Homo sapiens: one gene and its partners. The protein of the gene in region 3 interacts with the protein of the main gene of each other region in a pairwise test. Each region holds a gene or a part of one and is shown on either strand. Other genes may lie near its edges.

Region 1 (7,021 bases), on a different chromosome or scaffold from region 3:
TTTTTATTGTAATAAAAAACACATTATGATGGGCATGGTGGCTCATGCATGTAATCCCAGCACTTGGGAGGCTGAGGTTGGGTGGATCACCTGAGGTCAGGAGTTCGAGACCAGCCTGACCAACATGGAGAAACTCCGTCTCTACTAAAAATACAAAATTTAGCTGGGCATGGTGGTACATGCCTGTAATCCCAGCTACTCAGGAGGCTGAGGCAGGAGAATCACTTGAACCCAGGAGGCGGAGGTTGCAGTGAGCCAAGACTGCGCCATTGCACTCCAGCCTGGGTAACAAGAGTCAAACTCCATCTCAAAAACAAACAAACAAACAAAAAACAAAACAAAAAAATTTACATAGGTCATACACCTAATAATCCCAGCACCTTAGGAGCCCAAGACAGGAGGATCACAGGAGTTTGAGACCAGCCTGGGCAACATAGGGAGACCTGATCTGTACAAAAAAATAAAAAACTAGCCAGGCATGGTGGCATGTGCCTGTGGTCCCAGCTGAAGTGGGTGGATTTTCTGAGCCCAGAAGGTTGAGGTTTCAGTGAGCCATGATCACACTACTGCACCCCAGCCTGGGCAACAGAGCAAGACCTTGTCAAAAAACAAAAACAAAAACAAACAAACAAAACCCACATAACAAATTTACATCTTAACCATTTTTAAGTGTACAGTTCAGTAGTTAAGTCTCCATATTGCTGTAAAAGAGATCTCCAGGACTTCTTCATCTTGCAAATCTGAAACTCCCTCCCCTCTTTTCTCCCCACAACCCCTGGTAACCACCATTCTACTTTATGTTTCTATAAATCTGACTACTTTATATGTCTCATAAAAGTAGAATCATACAGTATTTGTCTTTTTGTGATTGGCTTATTTCACTTAGCATAATGTCCTCCAGGTTCATCCATACTGTGGCATGTGACAGGATTTCCTTGCTTTTTAAGGCTGAAAAATATTCCATCATAAATATATACCATGTTTTGTTTATCTATTCATTTCATTAATAGACCCTTGGGTTGCTTCTACCTCTTGAATACTGTGAATAGTGCTATGAATATTTCTGTGCAAATATCTCTTCAAGACCCTGCTTTTAATTTTTTGGACATATACCCAGAAGTGGGTTGCCAGATTATGTAGTAGTTTTAATATTTATTTTTTGGAGGAAACTCCATACTGTTTTCCATAATGGTTATATAATTTTACAATTTATAAGCCACATTTTTTTCTTTGTAGTCTCTTTCTTTTTTTCTTTTTCTTTTTTTTTTTTTCAGACAGGGTCTCACTCTTGTCACCCAGGCTGGAGTACACTACTGGCACAATCACACAATCATGGCTCACTGCAGCTTCAACCTCCCAGGTTCAGGTGATCCTCCCACCTCAGCATCCCAGGTATTTGGGACTATAGGTGCACACAACCACACCCAGCTAATTTTTTTGTTGTTGTTGTATTTTTTTAGAGACAGAGTTACACCATGTTGCACAGGCCGGTCTCAAACTCCTGGGTTCAAGAGATCCACTCACCTTGGCCTCCCAAAGTGGTGGGATTACAGGCATGACCCACCATGCCTGGCCTCTTTGTAGTTTCAATGGCTAGAAATATAAGCCACATTTTTAATATCAGCTGTGGTATAATAAGAATTATATTTGATCTTTGTTCCTAGTTCTTGGCACAGAGCTCCTACAACTCTTGTAATTTCCTGAGTGATAAAAGTATCTTTTGTAATTCATAGGAACACCCAATTTTATGCTAATAAGCTGACTTAGGGTAGGGCCCCTGGGTGGCCTCAGGATGGGGTTGGTCACTAGAAAGACCAAGTGATGAGGGGGTTAGGACTTTCAGCCCCACCCACTGACCTCTTGGGAGGGGAAGGTGGGGGCTGGAGATGAAGCTCTAAAAACTCTTGAACAAGGATGTTCTGAGGGCATCTGTGATGGTGACACAGGGAGGTGCTGAAAGGATGGTGCACCCGCAGAGAGCACGGAAGCCCCTATGCATCTCTTCCAGTTGGCTGTTCCTGAGTTGTGTCCATTGTGATAAACTGGTAAACACAAGTCAAATGTGTTCCTGATTTCTCTGAGCAATTCTAGCAAACTGTTGAACCTGAGGAGGAGGTCGTGGGAACCCCCAATTTATAGCTGGTTGATCAGAAGGTGGTCTGGGACTAGCATCTGGTGTCTGAAGTGGCAGCAGTTCTGTGGGACTAAGCCCTTACCCTGAGGGGTCTATACTAACTCTGGGTAGTTACTATCAGAACTGAATTGAATTCTTGGACACCCAGTTGGGGTCTGGAGAATCAGAGAATTTGTTGTTGGGGTCAGAAAACACTCCATCAACTTTTATCAGAAATAAAGATAATAGAATTTTATCAGAAATAAAGATAATGTGGATACCCCTCTATGGCAGATTCTATTTTCCAAAGATGGCCACAGTACTGTCTCCCTCCCCATATGTGTATCCTATTTAGGGAAAAGGAATCAGGCTGGCGGAACCAGGATAAAGCAAAGAGATAAAGCAGTAAGCTATAGGTCTGCCTTTGTTCATGGCCCAGGACATACAGCCCTCCTGTGCAGATAACATACAAAACTCACAAACTTCTGCTTAACATCAAATGCTTCGATTTATCATCAAACACCTCGGCTGACAGAAGAATGCAAGTTAGCTCCCTGCTACCTTGGTGTTATCAAGTAGCCCAAGAACCATCCTATAAAATCTCTGGCAAGCCTTTGTTTCCTGGCAGTCAGCTCCTCTCTTGCTGGCTGCCCATTGCTTTCTTGCACTGAGTTTTCCTACTTTCTCTAATAAATCTGCCTTTCTTTACCTACAACTGTCTTGGTAAATTCTTTTACCCCTGCACCACTGACCCAGATAGTCACTGCTCACCCACATTTTGGTAGCCTGTATGGGAAACTCTCTCCTTATGAGGAAGCCTCTGGCCTCTCTCTTTCCCTTTCCCAACTTAGGAACCTCAGTGGACAGTATCTACCCAGAGAGACAATTGTAGGTCTCTAGCTGGAGCTACCTACACTCCTGTGGGACTGAAAGGTATCCGTGTGGAAGCATCTAACTACCACCTGTTCAGGTGAGGGACCTGAGTTTACTTTCTCTTTTCAGCCTTTCAGCAGCTGGCTTTTAGTATCTCTTTGGCAACTGACAGTAACCAGCTGTGGCTACTATCCGGTGTTGCCTGAAGGCCAAATAGCCACCTGGCCTGGAAGAGAGGAAGGCTTCCTCCTATACTCTCTGGTCAGAAGTCCCTAATCCCTACGTGTGATGCGACTGGCAGCAGAAGCTCATTCAGAGCAAATTCACACATTTTGGGTGACTCAGACACTCTTTCTCACTCTGAATCCTCCTGTGGAGTCAGCCAGCCATTCTGTCCCAGATGTTGCTAAATCAGGTGATCTCAGACAGCCTCAGAACCATGAGTTTTCCCTTACCCACCCCCTCTCCTGGGCCAACACAGGCAGAGTCCTCCCTTCACCCATTTTCCTTGTACCTGGACTGGCCATCCAGCATAAGGCCCCTGAGTGGCCGAGGGGACTTTCTTAATAGGTGGGACACCCCTTTAGAAAGTGCACCCCAAGTTCCTCAGTAGACCTAAGTGGAACTGCTTTTCATCTCGGCTGGACATCCTGAGAGAAAGTGCAGTTTGTGCCCCTGAGTTGCACCATCCCCAAGCAGCATGTTTTCTAGTCCCACCATGGGACAAACCCCATCTATTCCTTCAGACTCACTTCTGGGTTGTATCCTAAAACATTAAGACAAATTTAACTCTCAAACCCTCAAAAAGAAATGTCTAATTTATTGTGTAACACAGCATGGCCCCTATGTAGAAAACCATCAAATTAGCCTCCTGAGTCCTTTACAACTGACAGCAGAATAAGGAGGACAGGGCTAAGAAGAAAGAAAAATGCAGAGGCAAGAGACAGGCTCAACTGTTGGCTGCTTTACAAGCCCCAGCCCCTCCAGGTTTCCCTAAAAATACATTCCTTCAGATAACTGCCATCAGTGCAAAACGCCAGGTTACTGAAAGGCAGAGTGCCCCAGTGGAATAAATTTTAAAAGCCCTGCCTGGCTTACTCTCTCTGCCACAAGCTCAGCCACTGGAAAAAAGACTGCCCTGATGATCAAAGGGCCCCCAGGACAGAATCTCAACCCCTAATGGCCTTATGCTAAATAGGCTCTCTGCTCTGTCTGGAAACAGCTCACCTTAACTGATAACTTGCAAAGTTGGGAAGAATTTATCCCACACCTTGTAGGTCTGGGGTGCTAATGCTCTCCCTGGCGGGAGATAAACAAAAGTGGCAGGGGTACTGACCTTGCACTGTGCAGTGGCTGGAAGGCTCACAAGCCCTCCTGTAAAGCCTGACCTTTTCCTCTCCATTCCTTCCTTTTCTTTTTCTCTTTTTCTGTTCAATCCAGGGGTCCAGCCTTAAAAGGGAAAGACAGTTTCTAACATCCTAACCCCTGATTTTGTCATTCTCTTTAAAACTCCAGCTGGTTACATATTATGGTACATTTTAAACTAACGGGCAAACTACAACAAGAAAAAGTCAGAGCTCAAATGGTTAACCTGCACTATAAAGTTAAGTGAAGTCTTCTATAGCTCTCTATCTTCCTTTTTTTCTGCCTGCTTTAAATCTGCTGTTACTAAGGTCCTGGTGCTGAGATAAAACTCATTCTTTGTGGTCTAATTAGAATGCAAACATCGAAAACTCATTTAAAGTTAAAGAAAAAAAGGTAAAAGAGGTTTTGTTCAAACAACCCAGAATTTTTAAACCTCCCTTAAAAATAAAAAATAAATAAATAAATCCAACACCTCCTTTAGACCTTACTCTTAAGGCTGACTCTTTTTATCCAATTCTACTACAGGCTTTCAGTAATTATCCAACTGCCTCACTTAAGCAGCGTCACCCTCTTAATATTGATGCTTTTATAAGGGAGGTAGTTTACGACTGCTATTTGCAAGCGGACTTCCAAGATTACCACCCAGATGAATTTTTTTGTATATTTGTCCTAGTAATGTCATTTACCCCCACACCACATCAGTGTGCTAAGGTACTAGGTGTTTGGTTAACTGTTTTTCTCATATTCTTTACAGCCCTTCTTCTCGCCTGTCTCCCTGAGTTTACTACATATTGTCATTTTCCTTAAAAATGGCTTTGTTTTTATTCTATCACGGCTATTGCCTCCATGGCTGGAGCCAGGCACTTACTCCTCCCAGTAATATTTCAGGTTGCTAACATAACACACAGCACTAACTTCTGGATATGCCCATGCGGACAGGCACTCAAAGATAACATTATATCCTAGCAGTCCCGCTATCCATAGAAGAAATTACTAACAAGCCTGATACTCTGGATTCAACTACACCATTTACACACACACCAAAAACACAGGTTTAGGAGGGGAGCCTAGGCCAATTGATTCCTCATGGCAATCATCCACTGTGACGGAGCAGATTGGGAAGGCACCAGAGATGGCCTGTAAGGTTCACCTCTGCATCAGAAAATCCGAGGGATCTGGCCCTTTTATAGGCACTTGTAAGGCTCACCTCTGCATCAGAAACTCCAAAGGGTCTGGCCCTTTCCTAGGGTGTTTAACATAAGCCCATTGTAATTACACCCTCAACTATAATCAAACACACCAGGAATGGAAGCTATATGACAACAATGACAAGTTCACTGTGTACCTCTGCAGGTTTTCTCTATGGTGGGGAAACAACAAAGTTAATGCCAGCAAAATTTATAGTGATCCTTTTATGCCTATAAACAGTTCAGCTACTGGGATAGAATATATAGGAATAGGGGTTGAGATTGGACAACTTCTCAACCTCACTAATACATCTACAACTTTCTCTTGATTTTCCGTTATCTCATTAATGTTTAAAACTCTTATCTGCCAGGCCCCACATTCATATAACACAAGTAAAACTTTCCTCCCTTATGCATGAATGACTACTTTCTAGGTCACCACCCAGCCACATTTGATCCCTGGGGACCATGGGATCCCTCTATTTATGCAAATTATACTGGAATCCAAACTAACCACACCTATGCCTGGTTACAAGGTCCCTCCTCAGGAGTTTCTTTAAAAGGAACTGGGCTCTTCTTTTTGTGTGGATCCAACATTTTTCCAGCCTTGCCTATTAAATGGAGAGGACGTGCACTATAGTTGCAGCAATACCTGGAGTACATATATATAACTCCTTAGACTTTATAACCTCTGGCCAAGTTCCAAATTTGTGATCCTTCCTAAGTTGGGCCCTTCAAAGGCCATCAGAAGAAAGGAAACAGAAACGGGATTTAATCAACCTTCCATCATTTGGCATCCTCACCACTGATGATCTCATTATAGAGAGGAATGGTCTAGGACATTCTGTTGCCCATGCAGTCTTTTGGTTTGCAGGTATACCCATGCTTGAGTGCAGCATTTGTAATATCACCATCTTAGTCCAGCAATCTTGAGAAGCTAAAGTCATGGCCATCAAGGCCCAATAACAGGTCCTAAATTCATTGGCAGGGGTTGTCTTGCAAAACTGATGTGCTGTGGATGTGCTTAACGCTGAGGCAGGAGGCACCTGCATGCTGTTAAATGAAACTTGTTGCTCTTACATCAATACCTCAGGTCAGGTAGCAAAAAACTTTAGAAAAGATAAAAGAAGACATCAAAGTATTAGAGGGCCCTCAAAAAGGAGTTCCTGAAGATTCCTTTCTGGCACAGCTATTTCAAAGCTTCTCCAGCTGGGTTTGGCTATGGGTTGCCCTACTTCTCCCATCTATAATAAAGCTCATATTGGCTGGGTGCGGTGGCTCACACCTGTAATCCCAGCACTTTGGGAGGCTGAGGCAGGTGGATCACCTAAGGTCAGGAGTTTGAGACCAGCCTGGCCAATATGGTGAAACCCTGTCTCTACTAAAAATTACAAAAATTAGCTGGGCGTGGTGGCATGCGCCTGTAACCCCAGCTACTTGGGAGGCTGAGGCAGGAGAATCACTTGAACCTGGGGAGGCAGAG
Region 2 (7,871 bases), on a different chromosome or scaffold from region 3:
TTTCTAGCTGCATGTTGCTAGCTAGATGCATGAGCTGGCAAAAGTGGTGGAGTGTGGGGGACCCATTAGAGACAAGAAAATGTGGCCAGGCGTAGTGGCTCACGCCTGTAATCCCAGCACTTTGGGAGGCCAAGGCGGGTGGATCATGAGGTCAAGAGTTCGAGACCAGCCTGACCAACATGGAGAAACCCCATCTCTACTAAAAATACAGAAATTAGCTGGGCATGATGGCACGCGCCTGTAATCCCAGCTCGGGAGGCTGAGGCAGGCGGATCACCTGAGATCAGAAGTTCAAGACCAGCTGGCCAACATGTGAAACCCCATCTCTACTAAAAACACAAAAATTAGCTGGGTGTGGTGGCACATACCTGTAATCCCAGCTACTTGGGAGGCTGAGGCAGGAGAATCGCTTGAATCCGGGAGGCGGAGGTTGCAGTGAGCCGAGGTCATGCCACTGCACTCCAGCCTGGGCGACAAGAGCAAAACTCCATCTCAAAAAAAAAAAAAAAAAAGAAAAAAGTCATTAGCTGAAGTATAAGCTCATGTTAGCAGTGCTTTATCCTGACAGCAATGGCGGATGGACTTCGAAGTGGGGAAGGGGCCCTGAAGATAAAAATCCATTAGGAAGCTATTGTAATAGCCCAATGAGAGATGGCCCATCTATTGGGGCACATTTTTCTTTTACATTTGTACCATAGTAATTATGGACTTAGACTTGTTTTACATTGCCCACAAAACACACATACACACAGAAGATAATAAGTTGCTCAAAAGCAGGAAAACAAGTATCATTGCTTCACCATAGGGGACATTTATTATTTGTCTTCCCAGAATAGATCCCCTTTCTTTTATAGAAGGACTAATGTCCTATTGCAACTTTGTGGTATCCCAGGAACTATCACAATACTGAATGATCACATGACCCCATCCCAGCCAATTGGAGTTCTTCTCTTGGATTTTGTGCGCGCGCGCGCGCGCGTGTGTGTGTGTGTATGTGTGTTGCTGATGTGGGAACATGCTCTTTCCTCTCTGGTCAGGAGACTATAAAGATGTAAGCCTGGGCTACCTGTGGCCATGATTCCAGGCCCCTAGGGACTGCCAGCCTGAGAGAACAGAGTTAAGAGGGAAGGATTTGAATCCCCGGACCCAGCTGTCCAGAGGGCCTGCTTCTCTCTGGCTCTGAGTAGTTTTTGTTTTGTTTTGTTTTTTACATGAGTTACATATTTTCTACTGGTCTCTTTATTTTTTTAATTTTGCAATTTAGGGCATACACACAGACTGAGAATCTGTGGTATGTCCCTCTGCCTGTCTCTTAAGGTAGTTTTAATTAGGTCCTGTCACTTCTAGCAAAAGGCCCTGGCCTAATGTATGTACCCAGGATGGCATCCTCCCATCAGACCGAAGACAAAGACGCTGCTCAAAACACATCTGGAAAGAGAAGAGCACAGAAAAGTGGCCTGAAGAAAGAGATGTCCAAACCAAGCACAATTTGACAGGCCCCACCTGTTGCTGCCAGGCACCAGGCAGTTTTCCTTAGATCAGGTGGACCAGAGAACTGCCCCACACTTAGGGAGTGCCCCCTCTTCACATATGCTAGATGCTATCCTCACTTGCCATGGGAAAAGGCATTCTTATTCACAAACCCCACCATGACTAGGCCTGCCCAGAGGGTCCTCTTTTCTGTCTTTCCAAGTTTCAAAAATGCAAGAGAACTATGAAAGATAGTCAGCAAAGAATACTTTTCCAGCAAGGTACAGAGGAAGCACTTGAATACATTCAAGGAACTATGATCTCCTGGCTCCCACCACCAACCCACTTCTGGCTGAGCTAGCTCCGGTGTGCACCTCAACAGAGAAGCCTCCCTGATTACTGTTTTAAAGAACAAGCTGTTCCTACCCACATCCCCTGCTGGTACTCTCGTAGCCAACCTGGCATTATTTTCTCCACCTCTGATTATCACTGAATGTAGTATTCATATCTTAATTTTGTGTCCCCCAACCCAACCGGAATGTAAGCTCCTGGGGGCCAAGGACTCTCAATTCTGTTCACTGTTCTATTCCCAACACTTAAGACAGTACCTGCCACATGCTGTGTTTTCAATAAATATCTGTTTAATAAATGGAAGTGCAATGATCCAAGACTGGGAGCAAGTTAATAGCATTTTGTGATTGAGTGAGTAGGCTGAGGAGAGATCTGACTTCAGGTCTCCAGGAGCTTAAAATGAGCAAGAACTTGATATGCTCCATCTTCAGGTGGACTAAAAGAAGAAATGGGACCAATAGGACTCATAAGGCTTTTAGGTCCAAGCTAGTGGTAGAGTGTGGGGACAGCTACTGTTTTTGCCTACCTAACATGCACTCACCCTTCTGACAGCAACCCTTGATTTTCTTTGTGTCTACCCCAACCTAATTTTGGAGGTAAGCAGATGACCTAATTTAACCAATCAGCAGCAGCAGCAGACTCCACACCTTTACTCATAGTGATTGCTTTTTGTCTGGACACATGATCTAATTCAGGCAATAAGAATCAATCCCATGACTTTTGCCAAAGCAAAAGGGAAAAAGAAACTCCTTCCAGGGCCAGGCATGGTGGCTCACATCTGTAATCCCAGCACTCTGGGAGGCCAAGGCAGGAGGATTGCTTGAGTCCAGGAGCTTGAGACCAGCCTGGGCAACATGGTAAAAAAAAAACAACAAAAAAAACCCATCTCTACAAAAAATACAAAAAGTACCTGGGCATGGTGGCATGCACCTGTGGTCCCAGCTACTTGGGGGGCTGAGGTGGGAGGATTGCTTGAACTCAGGGGGTCGAAGCTGCAGTGAGCTGTGATCGTGCCACTGCACTCCAGCCTGGGTGACAGAGAAAGACCCTGTCTCAAAACAAACAAACAAAACCTCCCTCCACAGGGACACTGCTAGCAGGAAAGATGATGAAGCTTGGAGCTGCTGGAGTCATCACCTGAATCTGAGAATAAAGCTAACAGAGGAGAGCACCACAGACACGTCAAAGGACCAGCTTGAGTTACCTCCCTGGAAGTGACCATGTCTGCAGGTACTGGAAATTTCAATCATGTGAGCCAATAAATTCCCCTCTTCTGGGGAAACACATGGAAATGGGTTTCTGTCACAACTGAAATCATCCTGACCAATGGATTTAGGGCTCTGAAGAACAAAAAGGAAATACATCATTAGGGCTCTTAAATGCCTCAAAGGGAAGCCTAACGTCAGGCAGGGTGTCCCAGAAATGCAATCTAACACCTTTTGGTGAAACTCATTGCCTGTCTTTTTGGTGAGTAGGATGGGAGCTGCGGAGAAAAAGGCCATGCTACTTTTATTAAGTATTTGCAGTTACATTTTGCAAATGATTTCAGCAACTTTATCTCAGGTGTTTTAACATCTCAGCATCTCACAGTTGTAAGAAACAGAATCAATCTTCTACTCAGTGCAGAGGGGGAGAGAGCATGATATAGCAAAAAGAGCACTGAACCAGAGTCTAACAATCTGGCTTTTCATCTTTATCTGATCACTGATTAGAGTGTGGTCTCAGACAAATCACCTTGCTTTTATTGGTCTCATGACTACCTCGTCTTCAAGCACTCACCCAACTCTGCAATGGAAAATACACTAGGACAGAGGTTCTTAATTTTTTATGGGGCCTGGGCCCTAGGAAAACACACACTGCACACATGATTTTACGTTGCATGGGGTTCACAACTCTAGAAGCCAATCTACATCTCTAACTTCTCTGCTTTACAGTAACACCAGCTTCTGCTTGAGCGCTCCTCCAGTGGGAGGGAGCTCACTACTCACAAGGAAGCCCATTGTACTACTGAACTGTACTAGAAAAATAAGTTATTCTTCATATATATATATATTTTTTGAGATGGAGTCTCACTCTGTCCCCCAGGCTGGAGTGCAGTGGCGCAATCTCGGCTCACTGCAATCTCCGCCTCCCGGGTTCAAGCGATTCTCCTGCCTCAGCCTCCTAAGTAGCTGGGATTACAGGCACGCGCCACCACGCCTGGCTAATTTTTTGTATTTTTAGTAGAGACGGGGTTTCACCACATTGGTCAGGCTGGTCTCGAACTCCTGACCTCAGGTGATCCACCCACCTCAGCCTCCCAAAGTGCTGGGATTACAGGCGTGAGCCACCGCCCCTGGCGTTCTTCTTCATATCAAACCAAGTTCTATACACTGTAATTTCTACTCATTGGTCGAAGTTCTCAATGGCAAATCAGAAAAATTGTGTTCTCGCCTGTATATGACATCTCTTCCTCTCTCTCTCTGAAGACTGTTTCTAACTAAAAAATGTAGATGATTCGCCATGCAAATTATTTTACTGTACATTGTTACAAAGATAAGTTCTTCACCTCACCCCTAATATGCCAAATGTTCAAATGTAGATGCTGAAGTCCAAATAAGCACACTGCTATTAATCTGCATAGATCTAGGTGTTGCAAAGAGGAGAACTGCTGTATAACAATATCTTGAAAGAAACAGCATAGTATTTTGGGGAAAGCACTGCATTCAGAATCAGAAGACTTGGAGTAATACTCGGTCTCACATTCCAACTACCTGTGTATCCTTGGGCACGTCACTTAACTTCTCTCAGCCTGGTTCTCTTCTGCAAAATGCGACAGGAATACAGTGAGGATTAAGTGAAATAATGTTTGTAAGCTTCTAGGGCAAGGCTGGGACATAGCAAATTCTCAATAAATAAGTGCCAGCTCCCGCGCTCAGCAGGCTCCGAGTTTTATTCGATGCGCTCGGCGCTCTTGGTCGAGCGGGATTCCCCCTCCGGAGCCCGAGTCTGCGCTCTGGGCTCGACTGAGGCTCCCTGGCCGCTCGCGCTTTTCTCTCCTTCTCCAAGATGGCGGCGATCGGCGGCGTTGAGGCGGGATCCGGGCGAGCCGAGTGAAGGTAGCGGCGAGCGGAGACCCCAGGAGACCGGGCTGGGCCCCCACCCTGAGGCGGCAGCAGCCCCGCCCCGTCGCCACCCGCCGCCCTGGGCCCGCGACATCACCTCTGGGGTGCCCCAGGCCCTTCGCGGCCTAGCCCAGGGGCCGAGCCGGGGACTGGAGTAGCGGCCGCAGCCGCCCCCAGGAAGGGGCTGGAGCGGGCAGAAGGAGGAGGGCGGGCGGGAGCTGTTCAAACGGGGAAGGCGGGAAAGCTGCGGGGCCGGGAGGGGGCGTGCGGCCGCCCCGGGGGCCTGCGGACCCGGGCCGCCCCTCCCCCTGCCCGGGCCGTCTCCGCCCTCGGGGGCGCCGTGAGGCCGCCGGAGACGCGGGAACCCGGGTTCAGGTCGAGCTGTGCGGCTCGGAACCCGCGATGCGGGGGTCCCTCGGGCTGTCAGGGGGAAAGGGCTCGTGGCCGCGGCCACGGGAGGGCTGGGGCTGCGGCTGGCAGGAGAAAGTACGAGGAGCTTTCTTCTTTTCCTCTTCACAGAGCTTTGTTGAGCTAGCTGTTGCCGCAAAACTGCCGGGAGAATCCCACTGGTTTGCCTTGGGGACCACAAAAATGGTGGTCCTGGGGGCTGTTTGTGTAAATCACCTGGTATTTTGTGTGTTTCTTGCGTGCAACCCGGCTTGGCCGTGCCTTCGTGGTGGGCGCCTTCTCCATGCAGGCCCATTTTCCCTCCACCAACTACTACTTGTAGATTCACTTTATAGCGTGCAAAAGCGGAGAAACATCTCTGTCCCCTCTTTTGGAGGGCTAAGCTGGTGGCTGATTATATTTCCTCCTAATAGAACAAAGTAAAAAACTGAATCCCAAATAAAGCCTGTTGATTGGACAAGGCTTCTCAAAATTCGATTGCTGGTCTTATGGAATGTGTGTTGTCAGCCAATCTGTGCGGTGGTCGTGGTTCCGCTTAATTGCACTGCAATGAGAGGATTCAATCCCCATCCCCGACTGTCGGGATCTCTGCAGCTTCCAGAGCTGGCAGGGGCTGGGAGTGCTGCCTAGGTAGGTCCCTGGAGAAGGGAGTGGCAAGAGGATTCGGAGTCACCGTGTTCGGAGATTGGAAGAAACCTGGACGAAGTTGAGAAGGCATCACTTGTCTGTATCGTAGAAGTAACAAGAAAATTTCAGAAATTGGCAACCGGCGGATGTGCATCTTCCTTTACCTGCACTGACTGGCATTTTGAGTTCTTGAAAGGAGTGGTTGGAAGAAGAGAATGCAGAATCTTGGACATGGCTCTCATCCTGGAACAGACCTGGAGTTCAGAATTTCTCTTACTGTCCGTGTGACGGGGCTTACTTTGTTTCCTTTTTTTCGATACTCATTTACATTATGGGGTGAAGAAGGTTGTTGATTGCAGGAGCTCAAGTTACCTCAAAAAAAGTCTGAAACCTGTTTTTTAACTGTAATTTGAAGTTTCAAAATGACAAAGTGCTATATCTGAGGACTTTTTCCTCCTGATTACTTTGGTCATCCCAAAGGCCTATGCCTGAACATAACTTGTATGCTTATCTACCAGGGAAAGAGCAACTCTGCCCCCTCCTTTTTCATATCCTGAAGAAAAGTCCCCGAAGAGCTATTTAACAATTTGTGCATTTCATAAGTATACATTTTTATGGTACCAGTTTTTTACTTGTATCAACAGTATGAAATAGTGAACTTTTACTTATGTTGTCATATCTTAGCACACTGAGACAAACAAAATTATTCTTGCCTCTTGGAGTTGACAACATTGAATTTTATAAACTCCCAAATTATTGAATTGAGACTGGGTTTTAACACCTGTTTCACATTTGCCAACATTTAATGTAATTATGACCTCCCTTTTCTAATGTGAAAATCAAACCTAATATTCATTTTCATTAATCCTCACAATCTACTCTCTACCCCTGAACTCTGAATTTTCACAGATTGTATTCAAGACCTGGAAGGAATATCAGGGGTTCATCTGATCTTATATAAATGTTGCCTGAACTCTGCCTTTCTTTCACACTGTTGCTTGAGATTTATCTGGTATCTTTCCAAAACTAAACCCTGAGCTGCAATAATATCCTGATTTTAAAGAACGTAGAAATTCAGGGCCCATCGGTCTGCCCAAGCTGTGGCTGATACAGTCCGTTGTGTTTAATTTTAGTTTTTCAAGCTCTTGGCTGCCCCAGTTCTTCAGTGAATTGGACGTGTCTTCAGGCCTCATTCCTTCTTTTTTCTTCAGGTTATTTAATCCAGTAATTTATAAAATGCTCTTCAGTGTTTTTAAGAAAATTTAAACAGTGGTAGACCTAATATATGTAATGCCAACACCACATTTTCTTGGTTGGCCTGTGCCTCTGAGAAGCAGTTCCTAATTTTCTATTCCCTCTCACAACTTTTTAATCCACTAGTTTTTTAAAGCAGCCAGTAACGAGACCACGATACAGTCATCTTTCTTTCTTTCTGTCTTCAGAGGTACTTATTTCTATTCTGTTAGGTTGCCCAACTCTGTTTTATGTTGATTTTGATGTTACCAAAGGGAAGGCCTGTTATAAGTCTCAGGACCAGCCTTTGCTTACATATACAAGTGCATTTTGTTGTTGACAAAACACTGATGACTGTATTTATGACATTGAATATTTAAGTTTTTTGCCATTATTTCTGAAATATTCTTTGCCAAAATTCATGCACAGAAAGTGTTTAATTTGAGGTCTCCATTGGTTCTTGGCATTATCAGCCTATGAAAATCTATATAATCTATATATTTTTCTTATAAACTCAGTATTTTAGTGCCATTGAGAGGATATGCTGTTTTCAAATAAATTGATATAATTCCCTGTATTTCCCTTCTACCTGCACCCCTTTTGGAGTCAGCACCACTTGGGTGGAAAGGGGAGGACAGTAGTTTCCGCTGAGAAAGTGTCATCCTTAAATGCTGGAAC
Region 3 (7,664 bases):
TGATGCTGGCCAGGGCCTGACGGGCCTTCTCCCACTCCGGGTTCTCGTGCATCGGCGTCTCCATGCCATTCTCTCGGCCTGCCCCAGCCACCATGCTGTACTGAGAAGACCTGCAGAGAGAGAGGACATCAAGTCACACCTGTTCTCCCCACTGTACACAGGTGGGCAAGTTGGGAGGCAAATTCCAGCCCCTGGATCCCATATCTAACTGTTACTACCAGTCTAAGCCTAAGTTTTCTAATCTGTACTATGCTGATAAAGGGTTTCTGCTTCAGAGTCTGCTGGGAGGGATAAATGAGATCACCTACTTAAGGTACTTATCCCAGAGCCTGGCACACAGCAGTTGTTAAAACCAAACAAACAAAACAATTAACAGAACCCACAGAACTGAACACAGGCCTTGGCACCTCCTAGGGCTATGTCTTTCATGAATCAATGAATTCTGTCTGACATCACCCCAGTCGGCAGGTTATCACACTATTTTGAGAAAAAATAAGGAATCAGCAGAAAAACAAATAAATGACTGTGTATTGAGTGTTGGGAAGCTGCCTCCTAATTACACTTGCTTGAATGAATCATCACAATTCTGCAAAGCAAGCGCTGTACTGTGAAAAACGAAAGCTCAGAGAGGTGAAAGCTTGCCCCTCTCCACACCACAACCAAATGCTTCCCTCTGTGTTTGCCTCACCACCACCCCCACCCACAGGGATTGTGGCATCACCTCCCCTAAGGCCACGGGAGGTCCCACCCCAGAGGACAGCACTGGGTCTTGCTTCCTCTTTCCCTCCCGACTGGCCTCCATCCCTCTCGCCTCACTAACCAATCTGTGCTACGTTGATCACCCACGTTGGCCGCCATCTGGACCTTGGGGTATAAGGGGTGGACCTCGGGAGCCAGACTGCTTTTTCACTGTCTATGAGAAAAAGAATGAGTTAGGGAGACTTAAGGGGGAGCTAAAAACACGTCACAAAGTGGGGAAGAAAAGTAGATGGACTCAAGAGAAGCCGGGCAGAAAAGGGGAGGCTGACTGAAAAGCCACTGGGGTCAAGGATCTGAAGAGTTCTGGGTGTGGACTAGAAAGGCTGGAGTGAGGGGAAGCCCCTGGCCCCTTTGTAGAGCTCCAGGTGGAAAACGAAGGATTTGGAAACAGGGAAGCCAGAGCAGACTTCCCAAAGGGAAGGAGAAGGGTCTGAAACCCATGTGAGCAAAGAGAGGCTGTGATGAAAGGTCCAGAGGGTAGGGGTGCCTCCATCAAGGGGAAAAGGTCTACAAAAAATTCTAGGGGCCAGGCGCGGTGGCTCACGCCTGTAATCCCAGCACTTTGAGAGGCCAAGGCGGGCAGGTCACCTGAGGTCGGGAGTTCGAGACCAGCCTAACCAACATGGAGTAACCACGTCTCTACTAAAAATACCAAATTAGCTGGGCATGGTGGCATATGCCTGTAATCCCAGCTACTAGGGAGGCCGAGGCAGGAGAATCGCTTGAACACGGGAGGCGGAGGGCGGTAAGCTGAGACTGCGCCATTGCTCTCCAGCCTGGGCAACAAGAGCGAAACTCTGTCTCAAAAAAAAAAAAAAAAAAAAAGCTAGGGAGTACGGGTTGTGAAAGGAACCTGAACCAAGAGGATGGATGCTATAATGAGAAGAGTCTGAGGGAACCCTTAAGGCTGAGAGGGTGGAAAGGTTTCCGAGAACTCTGTGAAAAGGGAGGCCTTTCAGGGAGCATCGAGGGGGCTGGAAGAATATTGGAGAAGAGAAGAAAATTTTGAGAGGAAAAGGGGATTTTCCGGAAGTTAACCCTGGAAGCAAGTGGTCGTTGAGCGTTCCTGAGAATGCCAACGTGAACCCCAACGTGAAGAAATGGGTTCTTAGCACTGACAGACTGATTTCAAAAAGGTCTCCGAAGGGCAGTAAAGAGACCTACGTGGGAGTCCTCAGTGGGACTACCCCTGCCTGCTTCCACGGGAGGTTCCCGGAAGCAGGGGTAGGGCTGGGAGAGAAAAGGGATCACCGTGGTTGGGTGTCTGGACATAAAGCTTTGGGAATGCCAAAGAAGACCCAAAACATGTTCAACGAATTAAGAGTGGGGTACAGAGAGAATTGGAAGAAAAGTGGAGTGTCTCCGGAGCAAGGATTCAGGAGCCTAAACTCCCGAGAGGGAGTAACTGATAAGTAGGATAATTAATCCCGCAGGAGAACCGGAATTCCCACGAGTTGACGGGATAGGAACGGGAGTCTGGAGCTGGGGAAAAGCCCTAGAAACGCAAAGGCTTAACTTAAACAGGACACAGGGCGTGGGTGGAGACGAGGGATCGTGGCGGGGACACAGGAAGAGGAGCCCCAGGGCAGAAGGGAGATTAGAGGTAAGGTCAGGAGTTGGGGGCTGGACAGAGGACTCCCGGACGGGTCTCAAGAACAGAGACAGGCATCAGACGCGAGGCCTGAGGTCCCGGGAGCACCTGGCCGTCCCGCAGGCTGGGCGAAGGCAAAGGAGGACGCCGGGTGGAGGAGGCCGCTCGGATCCCCACGACTAGCCACGGAGCCACTGCCCAGGCCGCGCCTGCGCACCACGCCCCAGAAAGACGCGCAGGAGCCGCCCGTCGCCCGGGGCAACACCCGGTCAACGGCGAGTGAGGGGCGCCCCGGGGCCCCGAGAACTCCAAGGGAGAGGAACGGAAATTAGAAGACGACGGCGCACGCGCGCTAGTGCCCGAACGCGCGGCCCCAGGCCCGGTGCGCAGGCGCAGTGGCTGCCCCTGCGCCGCCACACCCTGTCGACGCTCGCGCGCGGCGTCTGCTGCTGCGACGGCCGAGAAGGCCTCGGGGCTCGCGGGGCGCAAGACCAAAAGGAGATGCTATCCCCGCCCGCCTGCTCGCCTGCCGCTCCCCTTACCAACCAGGATCCTTCGCTGCAGGGACACGCCAACAACCACCCAGGCGATCAGCAACACGGCCACGACACCGCTGTGCCACCCGGCTGGCTCTGGTCTTCTTTGGCTTCGACGTCCTGACCGCGGCGTCCTGACGTCACGCGGCGGCCTTGCACCGCCTCCCTCGGCCCTGCACAGCCAATGAACGCCACGAGCTGCGCTTGAGCCCGCCTTCCTGCCCACGCACTTACGCATGAACATTTTAAGGCAGACCGGAAGTCTGGGTGGGGACGGTGGCCCCGAGGAGACAAGCGTGGCCGCATTAGCTCTTTCTGCCTCCCACGCAGCCTTATTTTTTTTATTGTTGTTTTCTTGTTGCTGTTGTTGTTGTTCTCGGAGACGGAGTCTTGCTCTTGCTCTGTCGTCGCCCACGATAGAGTACAGTGGCGTGATCTCTGCTCACTGCAACCTCCGCCTCCTGGGTTCAAACAATTCTGCCTCAGCCTCCGGAGTAGCTGGGATTACAGGCGCGCGCCACTATGCCCGGCTAATTTTTGTGTTTTTAGTAAAGACGGGGTTTCACCATGTCGGCCAGGCTGTTCTCGAACTCCTGACCTCGTGATCCCTCCGTCTCGGCTTCCCAAAGTGCTGGGATTACGGGCGTGAGCCACCGTGCCCGGCCGCAGCCTTGTTTTGACTGAGTCAGTGGGAGCCATTACTGTTCCTAAATGTAAACTGGCGTGACAGGAGTTCCGGGATTGTCCACAGCACGGTGATGTGGAAGCCCTGGGGAGAGAATGATAAAGAAAGGGGATGAGGAACAGCTCCACCCGGAAGAGCGGGCTTCCCTAGCAAATGAATCTGGAAGGGCGCAGGGGAGGGGGCACGGCGAGTTCAGATGGACCGAGGCTGGAAGCTGACGCGGTTGGAGGGGGATGGGTGTAGCTGTTGGCAGTGGCGCTGGGGTGGAAGTGTGTGGGGTCACAGATGTGTAAGGGTGGGCGCGGAGCAGACCCCCGAAGGTCCCTGAGGTCAGGCTGAGGCATTGGACCAAATCCGTACATAGGCATTTCTCTGAACTGCGCGCCACCTTTTGAGTGCCATCTGTTTCCGTCCAGGACTCTGATACAACTATCCAGTCCGCTGCAGGGACCGGTCACTGTGTCACAGTAAGTGGTGGGATTTAAGAGGCAGTTTTCCTCCTCATGTTCTACCATTATGAACGTCTAGCTTGAAAAATACATACCATTTTCATAACTACGTATTATTTTGTTAGTGCTAGCATAGTAGATCTTTTTCCGTTATTTTACTCTGTGGGGGGGGGGGGGTTTGTTTTGTTTTTGTTTTTGTTTTCTTTTTGGTACTAAGCTTTTTGTTCTGGAATAATTTTGGATTTATTCAAAACGTTGCAAAGACCGGGCGCGCTGGCTCACGCCTGTAATCCCAACACTTTGGGAGGCCGAGATGGGTGGATCACCTGGGGTCAGGAGTTCAAGATCAGCCTGGCCAACATGGTGAAGTCCCGTCTCTACTAAAAATACAGAAATTAGCTGGGCGTGGTGGCGCGTGCACCTGTAATCCCGGCTACTCGGGAGGCTGAGGCAGGAGAATCGCTTGAACCCAGGAGGCCAAGGTTGCAGTGAGCCGAGGTTACACCATTGCACTCCAGCCTGGGCAACAAGAGTGAAATTCTTGTCTCAAAAAAAAAAAAAAGAAAAGTTGCAAAGATCATAAGCAGTCCACCATGTTTTATGCCCACTTTCTTCTGATGCTGTCATCACAAGCACCAACAAAAGTGGTTTGTTGTAGATACTGACATGATGCATTACTGTAACTAAAACCCAGACTTTACTGGGATTTCACCACCTTTTCCTCCAATGTTTTCTTTACATGCCAGGGTACAAGCCAGGACCCACGTTCCATTTAGCTTCCTTTTACCTGTTGTATTTAGGGTGGGTTTCTTGTAGATAGCATGTAGTTGGATCTTGCTTTTTTTTGCCCAAGCGAACAGTCTCTGCCTTTTAAAAGAGGTGTTTATAACTGTACTTTTATTTTTTATGTCTTATTCTTTAGCATTCTGTACACAGATACAGCGATAAAATGAAATGACTGGAACTTAAATGTGAAAACTCTTTACAAGTAAGCCCACAATTAGATACATTTATCTTACATGTCAGGGAAAAAAATTATGTAAACAGGACAAATTATATCACAAAAGAATCCCAAAGTAGAAAAAATACCTAAGAAATGTGTCTAACCATGAAAAGTACTGTTCTCTTGGTGTCTTCACATCGTGTCTTCTGTGTACTTAAGTACAAAACATTGTTGCCTCTGATTAATGCACCCTGTACTTATTTTTCTGTTGTCCAGTTACATATTTGGTTGGTTCCAGGGCTATGTTCATGTAGCCATCCAGGCAAACCAGCACCCCTCCCTTAATCCACTTCAGAATTTTACCCCAACTGTCTGATGATGTGCTCTAAGAAGTCACTAGGGGATTGCTTTTCTTAAAAAATCTATTATTATTATTATTTTTTGAGACGGCTCTGTCGCCCAGGCTGGAGTGCAGTAGCACGATCTCAGCTCACTGCAACCTTTGCCTCCCAGGTTCAAGCAATTCTCTTTACAGGCGTGCACCACCACACCCAGCTAATTTTTGTATTTTTAGTGAAGACAGGGTTTCACAGTATCTGGAATTCCGGACCTCAGGTGACCCGCCCGCCTCTGCCTCCCAAAGTGCCGGGATTACAGGCATGAGCCACTGCGCCTGGCCAGTAGGGGGTTGCTTCTGAAAACTTATTTTAATAATCTTGGGTAGGCCAGGCGCGGTGGCTCATGCGTGTGATCCTAGCACTTTGGGAGGCCGAGGCGTGTGGATCACCTGAGGTCAGGAGTTCAAGACCAGCCTGGCCAACATGGCGAAACCCCGTCTCTACTAAAAATACAGAAAAATTAGCCGGGCATGGTGGCGCATGCCTGTAATCCCAGTTACTCATGAGGCTGAGGCAGGAGAATCGCTAGAACCCTGGGGGTGGAGGTTGCAGTGAGCCCAGATCATGCCATTGCACTCCAGCCTGGGAGACAGAGCGAAACTCTGTTTCAAAAAATAATAATCTTGGGGGGCAGGAAACCTAAGTCATAATCCCGGCTCTTTTACTTAACCAGCCGTATGACTTGGAAAACTCGTTTCCCTTCTCTCGGCTCCAGATTCCTCATCTTGCAGCTGGGATCCAGAGCTCTCACTCCAGGAGCCCAGTCACAGCAAAAACCAAAACTGTACTTTTTTTTTTTTTTTGAGACAGGGTTTCTCATTCTGTCACCCAGGCTGGAGTGCAATGATGTGATCTCTGTCTCAGCCCACAGCAGCTTCAACCTCCCAGGCTCAAGTGATCCTCCTGCCTCAGCTACGCAGTGTATGGTATTTTGTTACAACAACCAGAATGTAGTAAGACATTTATTGAAGGATATCTTGGTTCCTTCCAAGTTTTTGGCAGTGATAAAGAAAGCTGCCATAAACGTGCACGTGCAGATTTCTTTGTGGGCAGAAGTTTTCAACCCATCTGTGTAAATACTGGGGAGCAGTGTTGCTGGTTCATATTCTAAGAGTATGTTTAGGATTATGAGAGACCACCACACTGTCCTCCAAAGTAGCTGTACCATTCTGCATTGCCAGCACCAATGAAGAAGGGTTTCTGTTGCTCCACATTTCTGCCAGCATTTGGTGGTGCCAGCATTTTGGATTTGGCATTCTAATAGGTATGTAGTGGTGTCTTGTTTTTTTTTTGTTTTTTTGAGACAGAGTCTCACTCTGTCTTCCAGGCTAGAGTGCAGTGGCATGGTCTCGGCTCACTGCAACCTCCGCCTCCTGGGTTCAAGCGATTCTCCTGCCTCAGCCTCCCGAGTAGCTGGGACTACAGGCGTGCGCCACCACGCCCAGCTAATTTTTGTATTTTTAGTAGAAACGGGGTTTCACCATGTTGGCCAGGATGATCTCGATCTCTTGACCTCGTGATCCACCTGCCTTGGCCTTCCAAAGTGCTGGGATTACAGGTGTGAGCCCCCGCGCCCGGCCAGTGGTGTCTTGTTTTAACGGACGGTTCCCTAATGACATACGGTGAACATCTTTTCCTGTGTTTATTTGCCATCTGTATTAGGGTTCTCCAGAGGGCCAGAACTAACAGGATATATGTATATATTGAAAGGGAGTATATTAGGGAGAACTGGCTGACAGGATCATCAGGCAAAGTCCCACTATAGTCCATCTGCAAGCTGAGGAAGGAAGAAGCCAGTCACGTCTCAAAGTCCAAAAGCCTCAAAAGTAGGGAAGCCAACGGCGCAGCCTTCAGTCTGTGGCGGAAGGCCTAAGAGTCCCCGACAAACCACTGGTGGAAGTTCAAGAGTCCAAAGGCCAAAGAACCTGGAGTCTAATCTCCAAAGACAGGAAGTATCCAGCACAGGAGAAAGATGAAAGCCAGAAGACTCAGCAAGCCAGCCCCTCCCACCTTCTGCGCTGACTGGATGGTGCCCACCCACACTGAGAGTGGGTCTCCCTCTCCCCGTCCACTCACTCAAGTGTCAGCCTCCCTGGCAACACCCTCACAGACACACCCAGAAACAATCCTTTTTTTTTTTTTTTTTTTTTTTTTTTTTTTTTTTTTTTTTGAGACCGAGTCTCACTCTGTCACCCAGGTTGGAGTGCAGTGGCACCATCTCGGCTCACTCCAACCTCCGCCTCCCGGGTTCAAGCAATTCTTCTGCCTCAGCCTCCCGAGTAGCTGGGACTACAGGCACGTGC
Region 4 (7,021 bases), on a different chromosome or scaffold from region 3:
GGGTTCAGGACGGCGTCTGACACACGAGAGTGGTCACCAATGCCACCCACACATCTCCCTACCAGAGCACAGTCCCTACGGGAAGACCCTGGTCCCCACAAGGAAGGCCCCTGTCCTCATAGGGATGAATACCTTGGGCAGGATGTCCTGTCCTGAGAGACAGGACATCAGTCTAGGGACCCCAAGAAGGAGCAGCCAGTGTGGCAGCAAGGGCCCCGGGCCTGGTGGGGGAGAGGGCTCTAAGGAGAAGAGCAGTCATCTCTGCCCACGCTGCTGACAGATCAAGTCAGACAAGGACAAGAAGTGACTGAGCAAGGGGGGTCACTGATGGCCTAGACGAGCCGCTTTGGTGGAATAACATGGCAGAGGCCTGAGAGCAAAGGACGGAGGACGAGAGAAGGGGATGACAGACGCCCCTTTCTGGGAGTTCTGTTGGAAAAGCTGGCAGAGAAACAGATGATGCCTGATGGGAACGTTCTGATAGAGGGGAAACAATGGGGGTGCTGGGGCCCTGTCCCTGAGGGCCTGGCGGAGGGGACCACAGGCTGGCAGCGCTGACTCCTAACTCGCCCCCAGCAACAGCGACAGGGCCCAGCAGCAGGTGTGCCCGGCTCATCACAAACCCCTGTGGGACTGGGAAGTGAGGTTGGGGTCCAGACTCTGCCTGCAGTGCCCCCCAGGATGGAGACCCAGGCTGGGCTGCTCCTGCCCAGAGGCACCTCACTTCAGGACAGCAGGCACCATGCCACCTCGGTGGCAGGACACTGTCACAGCCTCTCTGGTCCTCGGGCTTCCTAGAGTCACAGATTTCTTCCCACTTCCATGTGAGGTGTTTCTTTGTCTCCCCCAAATGGAGCAGGAAAACAGCAGCGCAAGCACCCATGTCCGCCCACGCAGAGGCGAGGGCTCTGACCACACCCTATGGACGGTTTCCTCACGGGCCCAGTGGGAAGGTGGGATCTGTGCTCCCACCTGTACTCTGCCCTACATGCCACAGAGGCTTCTAGGATGGGCGAGGTCCTTCAGTCCCCTTGTCTGATCATCTCACTGTTCAGAAGGGGAAACTGACACCCAGAAAGAAAAATGAGACCTGCCCATGTCACAAGAAGAGTCTGTGGCAGACCTGGGTCTTGGCCCATCCCCCCATTGATACTGAGCCCCCAAGCCTCCTGCCTGTCTATCTTCTCCAGGACAGGAGCTCCCAGTGCCTCAGACTGCAGAGTCTACCCCACGTGGATGGAAGACAGTGAGGCTGGCCAGCTGCACGTGGAGGATGTGACGTCTCTTCTCAGTCTTTGACCACAAACATCCCAGAGGCACCCCCAGCTCAGTGTGCCCCAGAGACTCTATCCCCCAACCTAGGCTCTGCCCACTCTGTTCCCTGCCTACCTACAAAGGGCCTACGCTGGGGCAGAGCCCCTTCCACACCCTGCTGGGTCTCCTGGGCCTTTGCTCATGCTGTTCCCTCTGCCCGGAGCCCCTTCCCCTAATGCCCTCCTCATCCTTCCCCACTCAGGACCCCCCCGCCAGTCCCCACCCCCAGTATTTCCTTGTCCAAGAGGGACTGGCACATCATGGTTTCTGTCCTGGGTCTGCCTTCCCTCCAGTGCGTGCGCTCCAGGTGGGCAGGGTCTACTCCCAGCGTCCAGAACACTGAGCCCCAAACGGACCGCCTGAGATCCTAGCAGGGCCAGGATGGGGTCGCACAGGAAGGAGAGGTCGCCCTGCAGGCGCAGGCTGGGAGGCACGGGTGAGATAGGGCAGGCCAGGATGGAGTCGCACAGGAAGGAGAGGTCGCCCTGCAGGTGCAGGCTGGGAGGCATGGGTGAGACGGGGCAGGGGCTGCACTCACACTCGCTGCTGACCAGGCGCTCCAGCATGCGCCTCTGCTTCTGCAGGGACTTGGGCACGGGGCCTGGCTGCGCCCCTCCATCTGCAGGGGACAGGGTGGATTAACAGTCAGACAAGTTGACTATCTCCTCGTGCCCTGCAGCCCACCAGAAACTGGCGCACTGTTCCTAGGGCACGCCAGTTCCAGGGGCATCCTACGTTCTGGGGATCATAGGGCCCCCAGGGCAGGCAGAGCAGGGGCCACACCTCTGTACCTCCAGTAGCTGGGGTGGACTCAGCACCACGTAGCGTGCTCCCACTTGGTGATGGACACAGTCCGTCCCATTGGTAGACGTGGTCACAGAGCACTGGGCAGAATACCCTCTGGTTTATTCAATGAGTGAGCACTTGAGCCAGGGCAGATGCTGTCAAAATGCCACCCACACACCTCACCACTAGGGCACGGTCTCTACAGGAAGGTTCTGGTCCCCTGGTCCCCACAAGGAAGGGCCCTGTCCTCACAGGGAAGGTCCCGGCTCCTGTGGGAAGACCCAGCCCCTGAGGGAAGGTCCCAGCCCCTATGGGAAGGTCCTGGCTCCTGTGGGAAGGCTGGCGCCCAGGGAAGGCTGGTGCCCAGGGTGAATCCTCGCACCGTGCTCGTTGACCTGGCCGACATTCTCCAGCAGCTCCGCCACGGCCACCTGCTTCTTCTTCTTGGGGTTGAGCTTCCAGTACATGACCAGGGCTGCCTTGCGCACGGCCCTCTCCAGGTCGGTCTCGGAGGAGAGCTGCCTCACCTCCCGTTCGTTCTCGGACGTGATGCCTGAGGGATAGGATGTGGTCAAAGGCCTTGTGTGCCCTGCCTAGGCTTTCGGTGCCACTCTGACCCTGCCAACTCTGCCTGGAAGGCTTTCGAGCGAGACTCATAGAAGGTGTCAGGACTTGGTTACCAGGGAAGGATGCATGGACATCTGACTCAAGAGGACATCGCGCCACGCCCACTCTCCAGCTGGGAGGCCAGACTGGTCTCCCACCAGACGCCCCCAAGTGCCCCCTACATGCTGGCGGGAAGAAGGCAGCCTCTTCCTGTTCCTCCCCTCTCTCAGAGGTGCAGACCCGGAGGCACAGGCCTGTGTTCTGGCTCACTCAAGGTCACACAGTCAGAAAGAGGCAGAGCTGTCTTGAACCCAGGGTGGACTCACTGCAGTCACCAGCCTGGGTGCACTGGCAGGGCCACCCCTGTGTCTACAGAGCTTTCCTCTGTCTCACACACAGCCCAGCCCTTTCTAAGGAAGGCTTGGACAGCGGGGAGAGGGAGAGCAGGTTTTACCGCTGGTCAGCAGCTGCCTTCCTCCCTTTACCCCCAACGGCCTGGGACACTGGCACAACCAAGCAGAGGGCAGGAGGACTGGCACGGGGGTCTGGATGTTTTTCTCCTTTTGAACATTTCCAAAATTTTCCACATGAGCATGTATTTCTTTTCAAATCAGAAAGCACAACTGCACATCAGAAGGTGTGTGCAGCTGGGGGAACACGGGGCCAACCGGCCTCCTCCCTTGCACGCTCTGCCCCAGCAGCCTCTGGGCTATCCCTGGCACCCAACAATGAGCCGTGTGGGCCGCCTGAGCCCCCTCCAGGTCATTCCAACTGCTCTGGAATCAGCAGGCTGGGTTGGTGAGAAATTCTGGCTAACAATGCCACTGTTAGTTTTTCAAAATCATCAGTTTAATTTTCAAAGAGAAGACTCTGTATAATAAATGTAACTCTTAAAATATGATACAAGCTGGGCATGGTGGCTCACGCCTGTACTCTCATCACTTTGGGAGGCCAAGGAGGGTGGATCCCCTGAGGTCAGGAGTTTGTGACCAGCCTGGCCAACCTGATGAAACCCTGTCTCTGCTAAAAATACAAAAATTAGCTAGGTGTGGTAATGCACGCCTGTAATCTCAGCTACTCAAAAGGCTGAGGCAGGAGAATTGCTTGAACCAGGGAGGTGGAGGTTACAGTGACTTGAGATCGCACCCCTGCACTCTAGCCTGGGCGACAGAGTGAGACTCCATCTCAAAACAACAACAACAAACACAGAAGGAAATACACCAAAATATGGGGAGTTGCTTCTGGGCTTCAAGGTTATGAGTAATTTGTATCTTTATGTTTTCTACATAGTCCAAGTTTTCTATGATAAGCATAAAATACTCTTACAATCTGAAAAAAAAGGTATCATTAGAAAAAACACCTTTGTGACACCCACTTTCATCTTTCCCTGAGGCGTGGAACCTTCAGGAAGCACACTGCCCCACGGCACCAGGGACAGCCACTTCCCTTGCGCAGGACAACGTCCTAACTCACCACCCCTGGCCTGAGCTGCGTCCCTTTCCTCCCCTGCCTCTCTGTTTGAAAGAGATTATCTATGAAGGGTCAGCCTGCCTCCTCCCAAAGTGAACATGCTTGTCCAGGTCTGTGTGGGCCCACAGCCCCTCAGCTGGTCTGCCCAGACTCGACGGACATCAGCTCAGGGGCATGGGCCACTCTGACTGCAGGCCACATTACAGTCTCCAGCTTTGCCTCAGGGAAACTGCCTCTCAGCTGAACCCAGGATCGATGTCTCAGTTTGGATCAGAACCCAGCAGGGAAGCAGGATGTATAGTTACCACTTGGAGATACCAACACAAGCCAAAGAGAATGAAAATGGCTTGGTCTGTTAAATATCCCATGTTAAGTCCAGAAACAGTGTCTAAAATGAGAAGGCCACCAGCAAAACAGAAACTGAAATTTCCCAACAGCATCACCAGCGTTAGGTTTGGTAAGATTTTAGTTGTTCAGTTAGCAAGCAGCATTACAAGCTGCTCAACCCTCCAGAGGCTGTTCTAAGCCTCACACAGACCCACCTCTTCTGTCCGCCAAGCACCGGCGAAGCAGCTTCACAGCCTCGCGACGGCCCTGCTTCGCGGCGAGGACCAGCCAGTCCACAGCGGTGCAGCTGTTGAGTTCTTCATCCGTGTCGCCGGCCAACTGCAGGTAGTGCTTCCCCACCTGCAAGCCAGACACCAGTCAGCCTCCAGATTCTCCGACCCTCTCCCACCCCATGCTCCCTGCCAGCCCACCTCCTTTCACCCACTTCCCTTTGTCACCCAGGCCAGGAAGGAAGGGGCAGAAATGGGGTCACACCAGGCATGTCCACTAGGCTAGGCCCTACTGAGCCTCCGGCCACTCGCTCCTCAAAACACGGTGAGGAAGGTGTGGCCACCCCATCCACACGGCGAGGGAGACACGGGCTCCGACTGGTACTGGTACAGGTTCTCTTCCTTGAGTTGCTCCTGCCTGCCAAGGCTCACCATCAATGCATGGAAATCAGAACCATGACTGGGTCCTTTACACCTCTCAAAACAGTCAGGGGACCATAGAAAGCCAGGGCTGGAGAGACGCCAGCTAACCAAGGGTTAGCACTGGCCCACTGCCTGTTTTTGCAAATAAAGTTTTATTGAAATACAACCATAACCATTCATTTACATGTTGTCCATGCTGCTTTTACGTGCTCCACAGCAAAGCTGAGCAACACGGCAGAGATTGCGCAGAGTCCAGAATATTCACTATCTGGCCCTTTGCAAAAAGAATCCCTGCTGAAATGGTCCAGTCTTCTCATTCTACAGATGGAAAAAGTGAGGCCCAGGGCACAGAGAGCCCATAAAAGGGCTTACTATGCTCCCCCCGCCTCCAAATGCCTGGGCAAAAGGATGTGGGAGGAACTTTAAAGTACAATATGGCTGTGAGGTCAGGAAAGAAATTTTTTTTTTTTTTTTTTTGAGACAGAGTCTTGCTCTGTTGCTCAGTTGGGAGCGTGGTGGTGCGATCTCGGCTCACTGCAACCTCCACTTCCTGGGTTCAAGTGATTTTCCTGTCTCAGCCTCCCAAGTAGCTGGGATTACAGGCATGCACCACCATGTCTGGCTAATTTTTCTATTTGTAGTGGAGACACGGTTTCATCATGTTGGCCAGGCTGGTCACGAACTCCTGACCTCAGGTGATCCACCCGCCTCAGCCTCCCAAAGTGCTGGGATTACAGGCGTGAGCCACCGCTCCCAGCCAGAAATTCTTAATTTATGGTTTCGCGTGGAAGCTTTTCTCCTCTTTAGGGAGAAGAGGGGGCAGGAAACTGCTCAGGATAACTGTGGTCACTTGCTTGAGCCCTGTGCAAGGGGACAGAGTGAGGTGGTGAGAACTTGCCTCCACAGAGGACACAGGACCCCCTGCCACCTCCCGTCTCAGCGTTCTGCTGGCTTCTCCCCTCACCAGAATTCAAAATCACTGTATTTCTGTGTCTTGTCTACTTGGGTTTTTTGGGTCTGCTTCTTCCACTAACCTGTCACCCATGAAGAGAGGGCCACATCATGTCCCCAGCACTGGCACAAAGCCCAGCCCTTGGCTGATGCCCAAGTGAATGGTCACCGCTCTGAGGGCCCCGTGCACACAGCTAACAGCCAGGTGAAAGGCCAGTCAGGGAGACAAGAGTGGGCAGCATACACAGTGTATGTTGAGGGGTGGCACTGAGCAGGCAGCTGCAGGAAGCCAGGAGGTCATCCTGGAGGAGGTGATGCCCAAGATGAGGTGTGAGTTGGACAAAAGGGGGATGAGCGCTGCTCCCCAGAGGAGTGCCAGGAGGAAAACTGGCACAGTGAACATGGGCACCCTACCAACATGGGGCTCAAGTGGGGTAGGGTGCACCACGCTGGCTCCTGACCCCGATCTCAGGCACCGACACTTCTCTGTGGGCTGTGGAGCTCGTGGCCAGGCCTGTTGTGCCGGGGGCCGCGTCCCGAAGTCCCTGCCGGCACCGCAGTCCTCACCTCAGTCTGTGCCTTGGGGTCCCCGGCCTTGGCCCTCTCCAGGACTTCTTCAAAGGGGATTTCCATGTCTCCCTTTGTAGGCCCTTTAACACAGAAGAAACAAACACACATGTCACAAAGCCAGACTTTGTCACTTGTCAGGATGGAGGGGACAAGGCATGAGGGTCTTCAGATCTGCTGCTGCTTGTCACTTTCAAATCCAGGCCAGGAGTACAGAGAGACACAGACACAGACAGGGAAGATGCCCAGAAAGCCACTGTTTGCCTTCCGGTCACAAGCAGCGCCAGAGCAAGATGAGCAAACTCTATGCGGGTGAGGTGGTTCAACAGCAACTCAAAGCGCTCGGG

Evidence for each region.
Region 1: the proteins of LENG8 (region 3) and CFAP53 interact in binary tests that used the Homo sapiens proteins (3 or more experiments, as listed by UniProt).
Region 2: the proteins of LENG8 (region 3) and HMGXB4 interact in binary tests that used the Homo sapiens proteins (3 or more experiments, as listed by UniProt).
Region 4: the proteins of LENG8 (region 3) and WFS1 interact in binary tests that used the Homo sapiens proteins (3 or more experiments, as listed by UniProt).

The regions. Positions count from the first base shown.
Region 1 is NC_000018.10:50,228,483-50,235,503, forward strand, and holds part of CFAP53 (cilia- and flagella-associated protein 53), read right to left. Parts: intron 1-7,021. UniProt on the Homo sapiens protein: Microtubule inner protein (MIP) part of the dynein-decorated doublet microtubules (DMTs) in cilia axoneme, which is required for motile cilia beating.
Region 2 is NC_000022.11:35,252,639-35,260,509, forward strand, and holds the start of HMGXB4 (HMG domain-containing protein 4), read left to right. Parts: upstream 1-4,854; 5' UTR 4,855-4,919; intron 4,920-5,549; exon of another isoform or gene 5,550-7,871. UniProt on the Homo sapiens protein: Negatively regulates Wnt/beta-catenin signaling during development.
Region 3 is NC_000019.10:54,444,539-54,452,202, reverse strand, and holds the start of LENG8 (leukocyte receptor cluster member 8), read right to left. Parts: upstream 3,005-7,664; 5' UTR 2,893-3,004; intron 2,547-2,892; exon of another isoform or gene 2,459-2,546; intron 914-2,458; 5' UTR 859-913; coding exon 821-858; intron 111-820; coding exon 1-110.
Region 4 is NC_000004.12:6,286,829-6,293,849, reverse strand, and holds part of WFS1 (wolframin), read right to left. Parts: intron 6,758-7,021; coding exon 6,675-6,757; intron 4,864-6,674; coding exon 4,719-4,863; intron 2,654-4,718; coding exon 2,483-2,653; intron 1,934-2,482; coding exon 1,853-1,933; intron 1-1,852. UniProt on the Homo sapiens protein: Participates in the regulation of cellular Ca(2+) homeostasis, at least partly, by modulating the filling state of the endoplasmic reticulum Ca(2+) store.